Homo sapiens: one gene and its partners. The protein of the gene in region 1 purifies or fractionates together with the protein of each later gene. This does not show direct contact. Each region holds a gene or a part of one and is shown on either strand. Other genes may lie near its edges.

Region 1 (3,722 bases):
TCTATGACTTCTGGGTATAATTTTTTACTAACAGATTTAATCCTCTAACTCAATCAAAATTTTTGTAGCTCTATGCACTTCTAGAACACCCTTCATACTCACCTCATTCTAACTTATTCAACTACTTGAAGTTTTCAGAGGTTATCTGAAGAAATGAAGTATGTATTGTTATATAAAACTAATCAATTAAAATACAAATTCTGAAATAAAGTATCAAAAATATCTACATTATCATATGATCATATTATGAAATTGATTTTCTTTTGGAATATAGTCTGCTCTTGCATAAAGTAAATATCTTCCAGGTTTTCATTAATTATATAAATAGCTTATTCATTACTTATAAATAAATATTTCTAAATAGAACAGGAATATCAAACAAACATACTTTAAAGCAAATTATATAGAGGTACAAAAATCAGATATTATGGAAAACAGGAAAAAAAACCTTCAACCAATGTTTTGATTTACATACAACTTTTCAGGAACTTATCTCTTCTGGGCCAACTGGAAATAAAACTCCAAGTGTTACCAAGGAAAAAAATTGAATTCAACAAAATGCTTTTGTGTTTGTTCAAGAATTACTCCTTAGGGCAGGCATGGTGGGGAATGTCTGTAATCCCAGCTACCCAGTAGGCTAAGGCAGAAGGTTGCTTGAGCTCGGGAGTTCAAGACCAGCCTAGGCAAGATAGTAAGACCCCCATCTCAAAAAAAAAAAAAAAAAAAAAGGGGGAATTACTGATTACTCTTTAGACTAATCCTGGTATTTCTTAGTCAAGAGATCAAGACTCAGGACAGGCCAGGCGCGGTGGCTCAGGCCTGTAATCCCGGCACTTTGGGAAGCTGAGGTGGGCAGATCACGAGGTCAGGAGATCAAGAACATCCTGATCTTGAAACCCCATCTCTACTAAAAATACCAAAAATTAGCCAGCCATGGTGGCACATGCCTGTAGTCCCAGCTACACGGGAGGCTGAGACAGGAGAATCGCTTGAACCCGGGAGGCAGAGGTTGCAGTGAGCTGGGATCACACCATTGCACTCCAGCCTGGGCGACAGAGTGAGACTCCGTCTAAAAAAATAAATAAATAAATAAAATAAGACTCAGGACAAAGTTCCTTATTTACTCTGAAAACACTAAGTTATGCCAAGTTACCTCAGCTTTCAAACCCCGTCTGTCTTCTCTTTTCGCTTCCCTTTTCCCTCCACCCAGCTAAGCAAGGGACCTGCTGCAGGGTACCAGCAGATGCAATAATGCTCCTATCTGTATCACACCAGAAGCACAGAGTGGCAGAAGAATTCTGGTCCAAATAGCAGAGGCCCCAGTGATCATGGGAGCCCATATAGGTAGAGCTCTCAGGGAAGTTCAAATGACCCTTGAGGTCAAGGAGAATGTCTGGCAAAGGGGGCAAAGTCACAGGAATCCCCATCAGAACAATGACAACGTGACCTGCTCATACAGGGGATAATAATTGACAAGAAATCCACAATCTGGTTTACCTGTTAGCTCCCTAGCACCAAGACACATCTGAGTACTACAACTGGCTTGTTCTGATTACATGTGGCCACATGGATTCACAGAGAGAGCTCAAATATTCATGTTTGATCACAATTTGGGGCTTATCTTTTGCAGAGACAAAGGAAGTTTGGCTGGCTAAAATCATAGTCCAGGAATGAACTAATCAGAACTGTGGCCCCTTTGCAGTTGACTTTACTATTCTATACTAGAGAATGTTCTCTCTACCAAAAAAAAAAAAAAAAAGTACTTAAACCTTGTAATTTTGTGAGTTAATGGCTTGGGGTGGCTTTGGCCATGGGTTTAATTTGCAAACTGCTCAGTGTGTAGGAACAAAATGATCCAGGGTGTTTGCTGGCTGTGGTGCTATTGGCACAACCTGAACTGAGAGAAACTGGCTGGTATTTGAAACAGAGTGGATATTCTCCTCTTGCTAGTGAAATGGGTACTATTTAAGAGAAAAAGGAACTGAATTTCTTCCCAATTTTCAACCAGAAGAAAATAATTCTTAGAGATTCAAAGTTCTCTCAAGTATTACAATCAGTACTAATGAGAGTGTGACACTCTCCAGGACCATGTAATCCACATTTTAAATCAAGACTAAATCAACACCAGACTTTTGCTGCTTGGATCAAGCAAACCTTAAAGCAATTAGATTTCACCTTTCCAAGTACAAATAATGACATAAATAATAGATGGTTGATCTAATTTTTTTTTCCTCTAACCTTACACAAACTCTTCTGGCCTTGCTCCCCATGCCAGAGTCATGTTGAACTGCACACTCCTTTCAAACTCCTCTAGCATTTTTCTACATGGCATTGATTCTCTATTTAGGCAGTAATCTTGTTCCACTAGCCCAGAAGATCATGAGCATTTCCACAGAAGTTAACATAGCTTAATGGCCCCAGTATCCCTGAGCCTACTACAGTGTCTCCTGCATTTAAGTTTCTCAAAAATGTCTGATATCTTAGTAAGGACATCACTGCTCACTGTTGTCAAAATTAACCCATAAACCTTGATGTATCTGAACTAGTTAAAGACACATGGAGTTTCTCAGACCAGAAGATGCAACTGGTATTTGGGTAATCATTTTGAAACTTGAAGGGCCGGGTGCGGTGGCTCACACCTGTAATCCCAGCACTTTGGGAGGCCAAGGTGGGTGGATCACGAGGTCGGGAGATCGAGACCATCCTGGCTAACACGGTGAAACCCTGTCTCTACTAAAAATACAAAAAATTAGCCGGACACGGTGGCAGGTGCAAGTAGTCCCAGCTACTTGGGAGGCTGAGGCAGGAGAATGGTGTGAACCCGGGAGGTGGAGCTTGCAGTGAGCCGAGATAGTGCTACTGCACTCCAGCCTGGGCAGCAGAGCGAGACTCTGTCTGAAAAAGAAAGAAAGAAAGAAAGAAAGAAACTTGAAGCCCGGGTGCAATGGTTCATGCCTGTGATCCTAGTATTTTGGGAGGCCAAGGTGGGCAGAACTCTTGAGTCCTGGGGTTCGAGACCAGCCTGGGCAACATGGCAAAACCCCATCTCTACTAAAAAGACAAATAATTAGTTGGGTGTGGGGTGCACGCCTGTAGTCCCCACTATTCTAGAGGCTGGGTTGAGAGAATCACCTAAGCCCGGGAATTCAAGGCTGTGGTGAGCTATGATTGCGCCACTGCACTCCAGCTTGGGTAATGAGAGTGAGACCCTGAAAAAAAAAAAAAAAAAAAAAAAAAAAAAAAAAAAAAAAAACAGAAAGAAAAAGAAAGAAAGAAGGAAGGAAGGAGAGAGAAAGAAACTTGAAACTTGAAGCATGTGAAAGGATAAACAGAAAAGGAATTTTCCTACGTGTTGTATAACTAATAATTCTGGCAAGAATATAAAATTATGAAATATAAACTATAAATGATCTAGATCGATGGGACAGAGAGTGAAATTAGAGAAATTTATAATCATAACAAGCCATTGCATTTGATCCTTTAAACCACATTTGTTAAATGCCAAAAAAGGTAGTCTGGGGAACATCAACCCCTGAAGGGCTTCAGGAAAAAAGTTTCATGGTCAAAAATAAGTTGGGGTAATACTGCCTAATACAGCCTCCTTCGGAGAGCCACCAATGCACAGGATGGTGAAAAAGACTCCAAGCCTGCAGTCAAGAAATCTGTTTATCCTTGTTGAACTTCGTATTGCTCTTTTTCTTTCTTCACAGTACCTATTAAAA
Region 2 (3,986 bases), on another chromosome or scaffold:
GCAGACACAGATACACCCAGATAAGCACCCCACAACATGAGCACCCACATTCACACACTCAGGTGTGGAGAAGTTCTCCTGGGCTCGGGCTGGATAATGGGGGTGACCTGGGGACTCAGGAGCAGGTGAGCCATGATTCCCCAAATTTCCCCTGGGGTATCTCCCCCTCCCCCTGCCACTCCCCACCCCATGACTGGTACAAACAATGAATCAGCTCCTCACCAGGTGACCCAGATTCCCGGCGGATGGGGCCCCACGCAGCCACAGCCACAACCTAGGCCCGCCTGTCAACACCTGGAGGGAGCCAGGCATCCACTGCTCCTCCCCTGAGCAGTGACAGGCTGCTGGGGGCTTTAGGGACTGGATGAGGGTGGGGGTGCGGCACTCACTTTTGAGTCCCCATCTCCTTCAGGTAGGGAATTTGGCCTCTCTTGAGCGTTCAAGTGCTGAGCAGGAATGTGGTATTTTGATGCAAGCACACATTTCTGAACATGCATTCAGAACGCATATACATTCAGGGCGCACAGTCACACACACATGCCCCCATCGTTATGCACAATGACCCCGGCAGGATCACACTCCTTACATGAGCATCCTCCGGTGCATGCAGACCCACACAGCATGTGTGCAAACACACTCGCCTATACATGCACACAGACAGTCTGCACACATGCCTAGCCTGGAGGGAAAACACGATGTGGACTCCTACTAAGTGACTAGCACTGCTGGGGGACTTGGGAGCTGGGAATTCTGGAGTAGGGGAACATACACAGTTGCACGGGTTCACAACTATGCTCACTTGTACACGTGCTAACGCAGAACCTTCCCACCGAAGTTGAACCTCGCAGGCCCCCATCCCAAAGGCAAGAGTTCCAGGAGCCCGCAGGGCCCTTCAGTGGCCAGCCAGGCTCGGCAGCGCGCGGGGAACTACGGGGTCCCGCGCGCCCCCGCGGCCCTGGACAGCCAAACACCAACCTGTGTCTGCGTGAGGCCCAGCTGCGCGGCCAGCTCGGCGCGCTCGGGCAGCGCCAGGTACTGGGCCTTCTGGAAGCGGCGCTGCAGGGCGGCCAGCTGGTAGCTGGAGTAGATCGTACGCGGCTTTCGGACCTTCTTGGGCTTCCCATTCACCATGCGCACCTCTGCTTCCGGCTCCTCCTTCACCGACACTGCGGGGAACGCACCGGGCGGAAGAGGGGGCGGTTCAGCCTCGGCCTGCGACTCCTGCGACCCTCCAGGGCCCCGCCGGACGCCCCTCGCTTCCGCCCACCGACTCGCCGCGGGATTCCCGGCCGCGCGCTCCGCTGCCCGCGGCCCAGGGGGGAGCCGCGGCCCCAGAGCCAGAACTGGCCGCGGCCCACAACGCGGCGCTCCCAGCTCCGCGCCCGGCCGCCGCAGCACTGTCCCCGGCGCCAGCCGCCGCCTGCGCCAGGACCGCCTCGGCTTCGCTCACGACGCCTTCCCGGCTCGCCTCCCAGCCTCGGGGCTCCTCGCCGCCCGGCTGCTAGCCGCCCCCTTCCCAGTCCCATCTCGCCGTCGGTTGTTTCTCTCGCTCCTTCCCGTCCGCCCCCCGCCCTTTAAAAAAGTTTCATTTTAGAATCTCTTTAGATTTTCAGAAAAGTTGCAAGGATAGTGCAGACTTTCTTTCTTTCCCTGTCCCCCTTCTTCCCCCCTTCCTTCTCTCCTTCCTTTCTTGTTTCTTCTGCCCTTTCTCTCACTGTCTTTCCATACTTCCCTCTTGCTGCCTTCACTTTTCCCTTTTTCAGCTTCTCTGCCTCTCGGTGGCTGCTTCCCTCCGCTTTCCCGCAACTTCCGTGGGTCCTTCTCATTGCCCCCTCACGACTCCTAGTCTCCCCATCCCTTATCCAAAGGAGGGCCCCTAGAGTTTCCAGCCCCTGCCGCCTACCCCCAAGCCCTCTGCGACTTGATCGAGGATCGCCTGCTGAAATGCCCACGAAATCACCTCGATTCGGAGGTTTCCTAACAACCCACAGCCTTCCCCTTCCTCTCTCAGCTCATCCCGATCCTCATCCGGGACCGCGGCGCACTGCGCACATCGCGCCCCAAATGCTTGCACACCCGGGGCTGGAAGGTCGCCTGGTCCCTCTGAGGGTCATCTAGGCCAACTTCTCTAACTCCAGACAGTACTTTTCTTAGAAGTTTTCCTAGATTTTGGCTTCCAGTCCATGCCTTTTCCTCCCTCGGGAACCTTCCAGTGTCTCCCACTGTCCTCGCGACCCCGTGGCCCTCACCTGGGTCCTGGGCTGGCAGCGGCTGCTCCCGATACGCCCCGTATTGCCGGTAGGAGGCTCCGTAGGTATATTCCGACTTGGGCGAGTAAGCGCCCGTGCCTGCAAGCCCATTGAGATTGAATTGGTGGTGGTAGGTGTAGGGGTTCACCGTCTGGCCATAGGGCTGGCCCGAGTAGTAATCGTGCTGGGGAGCGCTGTAGTAGCCCAGGTCAGTGACAGAAGACTCGGGCAGGGTAGGCGAGTCCTTGGAGCCCGCATGGCAGCTAAGGGAGCTGGAGATGTCGGTGAGGATGCTGCTGAGCTTGCGATCGAAGGAGCCACTCATCCTGGCGGGCGCTGCACCTCCCCAGGGCTGGCCTCCGCAGAGGACAGGAACGGACCGGAGTGCGAGAGAGGCGGAAGAGACGAGGCAGGGGTGTGTGTCCAGAAGGCGAAGGGAGGACCCGGCCGCGTCTGGGGGGAGGGGGAGGCCGAGAGGCGCTTACACCATTGCCTGCCGTCAGGCGGTCGCTGCGCGCCTCTCCTCGCGTCCCAAGCCACAATCAAATGCTGCCAGCTCCGCCCGGCCAGCCGGTTATAGACTCAATAGTGGAGTCGCCGAGGGAGGCTCCTACGCGCTGATTGGCTGCAAGTCTTGCCTTCCAGGCAAAACACGCTTTTGCTCTCTCGCTCCTATGCTCTCCTCTCTCTCTCTCTCTCCCTTTTCCTTCTCTCCTCCCTCCTCTCTCTTCTTTTTCCCCAGTCTTTGTTGTTACTCAAAACACACACACACACACACACACACACACACACCCTCGCTACTCTTGTAGCTCCAGCCCAGATAAGTTCTCTGAAGGAGGGGCGTGGAGGTGGAGGGGAAGGGTTGCTCTGTGGAGCCCCCAGGATCTGTCAGTCTGTTTCTCTGGCTGGGGGATGAGAGATGGGCTTAGGTGAGGTGGGCAAGGAGGGGAGTTTGCCCATTGTGTGTTTGTGGAAAGAGATGGTCTAAGGTGGGGTATGGTTGTGTGTGTGTGCACACGTGTGCACGCACTGTGCAAATGACAGGCACACAAATGTACCCAAAGTGGTGAGGACTCACAGCCCCTGAAAATGGTTTCTCTTAAAATCAGAAGAAAAGGAAAACACCTTTTAGGTGAAAGAGAATGTTTGAATATATGATATTAATATATTATCTTAATAGCAATGCAGTCATTGCTATTATATCCTTGTATTACATAATTACAAAAACGTAATTTAAAAAATTTTCTTTTTATTTAGGAAGGTGCCCACCGGGCAAGAATGTCTTGAGCCTATGAAAGACATAATTTAGCACTAGGAGGATCCTATTGGAGAAGGGGAAGCAGACCTGTGTGGATTTAGAGGTTGTTGGGGATGTACAGCCTGTCCGGTGATACCAGAACTATCTCCAAAGCTATGTATGTGCAGTTTCACAGATGGCCCAGTCTTGCTGAAGGTAGCAAGGGACCTGGGGTCCCCACGAGGTTGGGTGGACACAGGCTGGCTCTGTGACTGTGTGCTTCAGTAAGTCTGAGGGCAGATTTTGTGTATCATGGGACAGCACTGGGGAATTGGGACACTTTTGGGGACTGGGTGCATGGGACGAGTGTATTTGGGGTGTGTGATGTGAGGATTTCATGTGTTCCACAGTATCCACAGAGGTACATGCATGCAGGAGTGTGTCGGGGGCGGGGTGCAGGCAGCATGAGTGGAGGGCCATCCGCGTGTGAACATGTGGTT
Region 3 (3,722 bases), on another chromosome or scaffold:
GGAGGACTGCTTGAGCCCAGGAGTTCAAGACAAGCCTGGACAACACAGCAAGACTCCCAATTTCTACCAAAAAAAAATTTTTTTTTAAATCAGCTGGGCATGGTGGCACATGCCTGTGGTCCCAGCTACTTAGGAGGCTCAGGTGGGAGGATCACTTGAGCCCAGGAGGTTGAGGTTGTGGCGTGCCATGATCACATCATGGCCCTCCAGCCTGGGCAACAGAATAAGAACCTGCATCTAATAAAAAATAATAATAAACCAAAATATATAAAATCGCATAACATAGGCCAGGCACAGTGGTTCACGCCTATAATCTCAGCACTTTGGGAGGCCAAGGCGGGCAGATCACCTGAGGTCAAGAGTTCAGGACCATCCTGGCTAACATGGTGAAACCTCATCTTTACTAAAAATACAAACATTAGTAGGGCTTGGTGGCGGGCGCCTGTAATCCCAGCTACTCAGAAGGCTGAGGCAGGAGAATTGCTTGAACCTGGGAGGCAGAAGTTGTAGTGAGCCAAGATCGCGCCATTGCACTCCAGCCTGGGCGACAAGAAGGAAACTCTATCTCAAAATAAATAAATAATTGTATAATATATATATATATGTAGGCTGGGCGTGGTGGCTCATTCTTGTAATTGCAGCACTTTGGGAGGCTGAGGCGGGCGGATTACTAGGTCAGGAGTTTGAGACCAGCCCGGCCAACACAGTGAAACCCCGTCTCTACTAAAAATACAAAAATTAGCTGGGCATGGTGGCAGGTGCCTGTAATCCCAGCTACTCAGGAGGCTGAGGGAGAAGAATCACTTGAACCCGGGAGGCGGAGGTTGTAGTGAGCCGAGATGGCGCCACTGCACTCTAGCCTGGGCAACAGAGCTAGACTCCATCACACACACAAAAAATAGATATATTTATAATCCCCATTTTATACCGTTTGTCCTGTTAAAAAGATGGTCACCCCAGGTGTGCCTTAACTCTAAGCAATCCAAATTTACACATTTCCTTTGTTCGGGGAGTCCTCAAGAAGGTCCATCTCCTGAAGCTGTATGCAAGGTGTATGATGAATCATTACGACAATCACTATTTCACTACTTATTGAATGCAGATGCTGTACATGCAGCCTCTTTAGTAGTTCTTAGGACACCTGGAGAGGTGAGAAATGTTGCTCCCACTTTATAGGTGAGTAAACAAGGTCCGAAAAGCAAAGCCACTTGCCTCAGTTTCTACAGCTAGGTAATGGTAGGACTGGGGTTTACATTTAAACCTGATTAACTTTAAAATTCCAGCTTTCAACCATGTTTCTACATCAAATGTATATGCATTTGCTTGGAAAGAGGACCTATAGCTTTTTATGATGTGTAATCAAATTTACTGATGCCTAATTTACATGTGCCACAGCCTTCTCTCGCATTTTTCAAAAGGATCTTAACCTAAAAGACAACCTTTTTTCCTCCAAACACAAGGCTCCCTGAAGGATGTTTACAACTGGACTCAGTAGCCAAAAGAGAACTTCTAGACCACTTCCTCAGAACCCAACATCACATCATTCAGGCGGGTCCCCCCATCCTGTCACTCACACTGATCTCTTTGGAAAATTCCTCATTCCCACTCCAGCTCCCTACCTCCTCACAGCCAAGTCAAACACTGCTGCTACTGCCACTTCTTCCAGGCAGCCTTCCCTTCTGTTCCACTGAACTCCTGTAGCTTTGCCTCCCATACTGTCCCCCATCTTATAATCCATTTGAGTTAGTGACGGGCTGACTTCCTCACTAGACTATAAGCTACTTGAAAGCAAGGATCACATCTGATTTGCTCCTGTTTCCCACAGAGCCTGGTAAAACAGCAGGTATTTAAGTATAGAATGAAGAAACACTGGATCATCATCTTAAAAACCATCTGGGCGCTTTTTTTTTTTTTTTTTTTTGAGACAGAGTCTCGCTGTTGCCCAGGCTGGAGTGCAGTGGCACGATCTTGGCTCACTGCAAGCTCCGCCTCCTGGGTTCATGCCATTCTCCTGCCTCAGCCTCCGGAATACCTGGGACTATAGGCACGTGCCATCATGCCCGGCTAATTTTTTGTATTTTTAGTAGAGATGGGGTTTCACCGTGTTAGCGAGGATGGTCTCGATCTCCTGACCTCATGATCTGCCTGCCTCAGCCTCCCAAAGTGCTGGGATTACAGGCGTGAGCCATATTGCCCAGCCTCTGGGAGCTTTAAAAAAAAAAAATAAAAAGCCCAGGCCCTACCCCGGGGATCCACATTCTATGCCTGACTGAGGTGTGTGTATTTAAGAATTGCCCAGGGGGTTGTAATGAGAAGCCAGGGTCGGAAAGCCATCCAGTGAGCCCAGTGTCCTTATCTATAAGACAACATCTGCTAAAGCTCATAGAGCTGCTGATGGGCCAGTTGCCACATCTCAGGGGCCTAACAGGGTTGGGCACACAATTGGTGCTCCAGAAATAGGGAAGAACAAATGAAGAATGACGAAGTCCAGCCCTCTCACTTTCCAGATGGGAAAACGGAGGCCCAGGAGGGTAATGTCACTGGCAGAGGCCAGACAACAAAAGTCAATGGAAATACTAAGATATGAATTTCTGGAATCTGGCATACAGTAGGCACTCAATAAATGCCAAGGTGACAGTGAGCCCCAAGTCCAGCTGTGTGACTGGGACTATATTTCTACCCTCTTCCCCTCCAGCCCAGACAAGGCTGCAGATGGCTACAAGCTCCAACGGGGTCAGCAGAGCCCCAGAAGGGGTAGCCGGCACCAACCCCCTGAAGGCTGCTGGGCGAGAGGGTGGAGGGGTGGGGTTGTGGGGGGATGGTGGTGAGAGGATGGAGGGGAACGCTGTCCCCCGGAGGTGCCCCCAGTCCTCACCTTCGCACTGGTAATTACTCCATAGGGAGAGAACTCTTTCCTCAGTTTGTCGTCATCAATGGAGTCGTCCAGATTCTTCACATACAAGTTCACACCCTGGGATGGAAGGGAAACTGCTGGATGTCCCCTTCTCCTCCAAGCCCCAACTGCCTTGGGGAGATCAGGGAACTGACGCAGGTACAAGGGGCATGGGGAGCCCCACCAGCCCAGCCTCCTGCTCCCCGTCTCCCTCAGCACCCAGGTACCCCCATCCCTCAGCGTGCCCATCACATGCAAGCTGTAGCCCCCACATCCCAAATTCCCCTGCAGTTCTCACACATCTGCACTGGTCCCAGCCTCACCACAGCTATTCCCCATTTCACAGATGGGGCCCACGAGGATGTCCCAGGTCCCGTGGCAGGCTGAGGTGCAGAGCATGCCCAAGCCAAGCTCTCCAGATGGTGGATGTCGGGCAGCAGGAGTCAGAGCTCCTCCCTGGCTGGCCCATGACCAGAACCCTAACACAGGTGAGCTGCCCCTCCATCCCCTGCCAGCCCAGGAACCTCGGGCACTTACTCATGTTGGTGCCAGGTGCCACTCTAAGCTTTCCCATACATTTTGATTTTTTTTTTAAGACTTTTTTTTTTTGAGATGGATTTTTGCTCTTGTTGCCTAGGCTGGAGTGCAATGGTGCAATCTCGGCTCAGTGCAACCTCTGCCTCGCGGGTTCAAGTGATTCTCCTGCCTCAGCCTCCCAAGTAGCTGGGATTACAGGTACGTGCAACCAGACCCAGCTAACTTTGTATTTTTTAGTAGAGACGGGTTTCTCCTTTCTCCATGTTGGTCAGGCCAGTCTTGAACTCCTGAC

Evidence for each region.
Region 2: the proteins of GCM1 (region 1) and DLX3 purify together in Homo sapiens (co-immunoprecipitation; one study listed by IntAct). This does not show direct contact.
Region 3: the proteins of GCM1 (region 1) and PABPC1L purify together in Homo sapiens (affinity purification with mass spectrometry; one large-scale study listed by BioGRID and IntAct). This does not show direct contact.

The regions. Positions count from the first base shown.
Region 1 is NC_000006.12:53,138,789-53,142,510, forward strand, and holds part of GCM1 (chorion-specific transcription factor GCMa), read right to left. Parts: intron 1-3,722. UniProt on the Homo sapiens protein: Transcription factor involved in the control of expression of placental growth factor (PGF) and other placenta-specific genes. Binds to the trophoblast-specific element 2 (TSE2) of the aromatase gene enhancer. Binds to the SYDE1 promoter.
Region 2 is NC_000017.11:49,992,425-49,996,410, forward strand, and holds the start of DLX3 (homeobox protein DLX-3), read right to left. Parts: upstream 2,801-3,986; 5' UTR 2,575-2,800; coding exon 2,250-2,574; intron 1,167-2,249; coding exon 976-1,166; intron 1-975. UniProt on the Homo sapiens protein: Transcriptional activator. Activates transcription of GNRHR, via binding to the downstream activin regulatory element (DARE) in the gene promoter.
Region 3 is NC_000020.11:44,923,410-44,927,131, reverse strand, and holds part of PABPC1L (polyadenylate-binding protein 1-like), read right to left. Parts: intron 2,972-3,722; coding exon 2,876-2,971; intron 1-2,875. UniProt on the Homo sapiens protein: Poly(A)-binding protein involved in oocyte maturation and early embryo development. It is required for cytosolic mRNA polyadenylation and translational activation of maternally stored mRNA in oocytes.